2 separate regions of the Homo sapiens genome follow, and region 2 is linked to region 1. The links come from fine-mapping of genetic effects on gene expression. A gene starts in region 1. The other region holds a variant in brackets. All regions are shown on one strand. Distances are between the middles of the regions. Region 1 holds the start of EFNB3 (ephrin B3). Region 2 overlaps DNAH2 (dynein axonemal heavy chain 2).

Evidence for each region. PIP is the estimated chance that this variant, and not a neighbour inherited with it, causes the effect.
Region 2: its variant is fine-mapped to the expression of EFNB3 in unexposed skin (GTEx, PIP above 0.99). The same link has a PIP of 0.9 or more in sun-exposed skin.

Annotation. Positions count from the first base shown.
Region 1 is chr17:7,703,701-7,706,200 of GRCh38, reverse strand. EFNB3 (ephrin B3) reads right to left here and starts at 999. Exons shown (of 5, transcript NM_001406.4): 1 at 481-999. The coding sequence starts at 602. RefSeq lists enhancers at 1-621, 2,306-2,385, 1,515-2,406, 2,407-2,500 and a silencer at 2,316-2,500.
Region 2 is chr17:7,785,951-7,788,450 of GRCh38, reverse strand. It overlaps DNAH2 (dynein axonemal heavy chain 2), which reads right to left. Exons shown (of 86, transcript NM_020877.5): 40 at 2,109-2,327; 41 at 1,764-1,881; 42 at 1,418-1,554; 43 at 454-591; 44 at 207-365. Among named protein-coding and RNA genes, the nearest start is that of KDM6B, 47 kb to the left of the region's middle. The variant C/T (reference allele first, on the strand shown) is at 1,365.

The DNA.
Region 1 (2,500 bases):
GAAGTTGTCCCCAGAGCCCCCAAACGGAACCCCCTTGCCTCCCATCTCGGATGCGCAGTCCCTCTGGGGGAGGGAGGCACCCTGCCCTGCCTTCCCCTCAGCGACTCGCAGCACCTAATCTGCAGCTCTCTCCTGAGAGCTGACAGTAACCAGGCTCCCTCCAAGCCCAGCCCCCGACGCAGGCCTCCCACAGATCCAAATACCCACCTCACTGCCCTCCCGGCTACCCATGAACTTTCTTCTCCTTGCCCCTTTGGGGTCTCCAAACTCCTGACATCCATAGCACCACCCGCATCCAGCTCTGCGTGGGACCCGGAGTCTGGCTCCCAAGATCACCTGTCTAGTAACCCATCACACATCAGAGCACCAGCACCTTCCCTCCCGCCTCCTCCCTGCCCACAGAAGCCCGCCTCCAAGCCCCCAGAGCTTCCCTACCCACTGCCCTAGGGTCTGGGATCTCCCCAGCCGCAGGCCACTCACCTCTTATTCGCCGAGTTCCAGTAGACAGGCTCCAGGCTGAGCCCAGACACCAGCCCCAAAACCCCCAGCAGCAGCAGGGCCCCGACTCGCACGCCCCCCGGCCCAGAATGGGGGGGCCCCATGACCCCGCCAAGGCCTGGGGGGCGGGGCACCAACTCCCCCAAAGTCGCCCACCCCCCGGGGTGGCTGCCTTGGCTGCCTGGCTCTTCAGCCCGGACCACCCCGGTAGCTGATGCCCCCAGCGCCCACGCGGACCTGCTTCCTGCTGTGCCCGCGCCCCCGCGGCAGAGCGCTCAGCCCCACCAGAGCCCTTCCAGGGGCCGTCTGCAGGCGCCCTACGCGCCCCCGGCCCACGCGCCAGCACCCCGGGATCTGTGAGCCCGCCTAAGTGGGGGACTGGGGGAGCCGGGGACCGGGCGGGGGCGGCATGGGGCGCCGGACCAGGGAGCGAGGAAGGGGGCGCCGAGCCGGAGCCCCAGCCTCGCTGGGATTGAGGGCAGCGGGCTAAGGGAGGAAACCAGTCCCGAGCCCAGGAGGGGGGAGTTAAAGGAGAGGCGGGGAGGGGCAGAGGATGGTGGAGGGAAAAACCGGAGCTGGAGCTCGAGGCGGAGCGGGCGGCAGCATCCCGCGGCCCACGCCCCCCACACCTCCCTCACCTCGCGCACCTCCCGCCCGCCGCCCCGCCTCAGCCCCCGGCGCGGGCTGTCACGCCCCCTTTGTCTCTCCGAGCCTCTGGCTCCGGCTGAGTTCTGCCCGGCTCCCCTCCTGCCCTCCGATCGCCCAAGCTGCTGGAATCTTCCTCTCTCGAATCCAGAAAGGCTCTCGCCCTCTCCACCCCGAGGAACCCACCCCTTTCGCTCCCGCAGCCTCCTCCTCCATCCCAAAACAACACCGCTGCTCCCGGCAGGTTTGGAGAGAATAATAATAACCTTGAAGGCTTGGCGCTTTACAAAGTGCGGCGGAGCTGATCGTCACGACTACCTGTGTGAAGTGGGAGGGGCAGAGCTAACGATCCCATTGCAGAGATGAGGAAACTGAGGCTCAGGGAGGCCCCGTGACTTGCCCAAGGTCACACAGGAAGTCTGGGATAAAGCTAGAAACCAAACCCAGGCTGCGCACCTCCCACTCTTGGGGTCTCTTTTGTCACTGCTCCATGGACCAAGTGCTGTTGTTACCTGGGGGTTAGTGAAAAACAAGAGTTTAGGGGATACACTTGGGTCTTTCCTAGATGGCTGGGGGGAGAAGCGGGGCTGGGAGAAGAAGGGGCGTACCTACAACCCCAAACCGGCGCTGCGCAGGAAGGGCTGTTTCCAATTATCCTGGGGGAAGGGAGGAGTTGCCTTTTCGGGTGTAAGAGCCCTGGCTTTCAGCACCTCTGGGCAGGGGTGACATTCCTCTCCCTCTCAAGCCTCCCCAGGCCTTTCGTCCCTTCCCTTTGATTGTGAGGTCCAAAATCACATCCCCTGCTGGCAGTATTTCTTCAAAGTCCCCCCATTCTCAGTGTTTGGGAAGGTGTTGGGGGGAGGAGGGAGGAGTCACTGCTTCAAATGACACACTCGTCCCCCACCCCCAAAGACAGAGCAGACAAATGGAGAAACAAGCCCAGCGACAGCCGCTGAATGAATAAGACCCTCGCCGCGCCCCGCATGGAACAGCAATATCAAAGGTGACGACTGTATTTTTCAACACCTTTACTCTTTTATGTGTGTCCTTGACTCTGGCAACTGGGTTGTCTGCCTCCTGGGGAGCCCCGGGGAGCGGAGGAGAGTGCTCCTGCTCCCCTCAGAGCTGAGTAATGGTCCCCATGCTGCTGGAGAATGGCAAACAGTGTGGAGTGTGGGCGACAGGCGCCCTGTCACTGTCTGCACAGTCTCACACGGTCACACCCAACAGTCTGACCCAGCTCCTGCTCAGCCCCGCTCACCCTGACCCCTGCCGCCCCCACCTTGGGAGTGAGATTTCAAACAGGTTTCCCCCTTCAGTTTACCAAGTTGCCTAGCAACCAACCAGTCAATGGCAT
Region 2 (2,500 bases), 82 kb before region 1:
TTCAGCTCAATGCACACGTGCACACACACAGACATGCACACACACACCCCTCACTGCCTCCATGGTCGTTGAAGCCTCCCCCTGGAGTCTCTGCTCCACTCAAGCCTGGAGTTCAACCTGTCTCAGACACGCCGTTTCCCAGAAGTTGTTCTGGTGAGGCTGTGAGCACCCCCTGCCCCTGCCCGTGGTCTGTGTCCTCCCCTTACCCCATTCTCTGGCGTGGCCAGGGCAGAGTACAGCTTGCAGAGGGAGGTGATACCGCTGTACTCGGGCAGGGGCACCAGCTCCTTGCAGTTGTCCTTCTTAAAGGCCAGCATCTTGTTGATGAGCTTTTCGAACATGCGTTGAAGGGGCTCCACCTCAGCCTGGAGTTGAATAAGAAGGGGCTCTTCATTCACCCTTGTGTCCTGGAGCCACCCTGGTTACTTTCCCTCTCCTCAGTTCCCTTCATACCTTTGGCCTCTTCTCCAGCCATGACTGAACATAGGGCTTCCAGCCCAGGTCAGCGTAGTCAGTGTAGACCATCCCGCAGCGGGATACAGTGGCCGGAGAGGCCATTGCCAGGTCCTCCACTTCAAACAGGAGAGACACCTAAGGATATACGTTTGTCAGAACTTCATCTTTCTCTGCATCCCCCACCTTCAGGAATAATAAAACACCCGGAACTCGGATGCTACAAGTTCACAAACGATTTGCTTTTTTTTTTTTTTTTTTTAAGACAAAGTCTCACTCCGTCACCCAGGCTGGAGTGCAGTGGCGTGATCTTGGCTGACTGCAACCTCCGCCTCTCAGGTTCAAGCAATCCTCCCACCTCAGCCTCCAGAGTACCTGGGACTACAGGTGCACAACACCACACCCAGCTAACTTTTGTATTTTTTAGTAGAGATGGGGTTTTACCCTGTTGGCCAGGCTGGTCTTGAACTCCTGACCTCAAGTGATCTGCCCACCTTGGCCTCCCAAAGTGCTAGGATTACAGGCGTGAGCCACCCGGCCCGGCCCAGTTTGCTTTAAAAGAAACTAGAGCTTATTCAAGGTTGTCCTTTTGAAAAATCACTCTCTTGCTCGCATTGTTGGAGTGGGTGGAAAAGGGTGTGCTTGCCAGTCCGTGAATTCATACCTCTGGGTGCACAAACGAGGGTCCTGCCTCATGCATCCGTGAGAACGAGCCGAGGAGGGCCGCCCAAGCCTACACAGTGCTTACAACAGAGGGTGTTTTTCTTATCATTGTTCTCAACAGCCGCGGCAAGCAAAGCATTTTTCTTCAGCTGCAGGTTTCCCTGAATCCAGGCATCCACCTTTCAGCTCTCTCCCACAGAACCTGCCCTGCTCTGAGATTTCTGGCTCTCCTCCCCAGCCCCGGCCCA[C/T]GCCCTCCGGTGCCTGCCTCTGCAGGCCTCCAGGAGTCAGCCGCGTCCCTGACCTGCTCGGGCATCGCGATGCGCTCGCCGTTGATGAGGGTCAACACCTTGTTATCGTCCATGACGGAGTTCATGTTCTCGATCCACAGTGTGTCCACGGGGCCATCGAACAGGATCCACTTCTCGTCGGGTTTCTCATCTGAGTAGATGGTGGGTGATGAGGAAACCGGGGAGCCGCTCACCTTGCACCCTCCGCTCACGCTCCTCGGAGACACAAGCCTACACTCCCTTGTACTTCAGCATTCCCCAGGCATTTCTCTCCCAACTTGGAACTTCCTATCCCCAGACTCCCTGCCCCCTTAGGAGACTCAGGCGTCTGCTCTCCACACCCCACGATCCTCTGGATACCTGCACATGCCGTCCGCATGACACTGGACAAGATGCCATCTGTCCATTCATTGGTGCTGAGGTCATATTCCCCATACAGTTCCCCTAGGGACAATGCCTTGGGGTTCAAAGGGAACTCCTGAAAATGACACCGGAAGGGGTTTTAGCTGCTGATGGACAAAAACCCCTCTTTATTTCCAGACCCCTCTTAGGTACGTGCATTTGTCCCTTCTCTCATCGCTCCAGGCCACCATGGTCCCAGGTACAGCTCTCCCGGCCTTGCAAGGTCCTCCCTGGCCCCCACCCTCCATTGTCTTCTTACTACTCAAGTCTCTGCCCACTGACTCCACTGTCCCAGCCCCGTACTCTAACAATGTTGAAGTTAGGGTCTCCGGCGCGGCACAGAGAGGACAGGGAGGCCTGTAGAATGCGCCATGAGGCAGTCTTGCCGCTGCCCGTGCAGCCCACGATCATGGTGGAGTGGCGGGAGTTCTTGGTTTCATACAACTGGAAAACCTTGGTGAGGGTGAACGGCGTGCTTTGCAGGCCCATGTCTCGAATCTCCTGCTCAACGGTCTCCCGCAGCTGAGGGAAGGGAAAACACAGCAAGCAGAAGAAAAAGGATGAGGCCTTTAAAGGGCTTTCAAAATCTCCCCGGTGCCAGAGAGAATACGTTCAAACTGTTAAAAATGGCACCAGGGCCCTCTGCACTCCGGCTCTGTTCACTCATTGGGAAGCTGGCCCATTGCAGAGTTGAA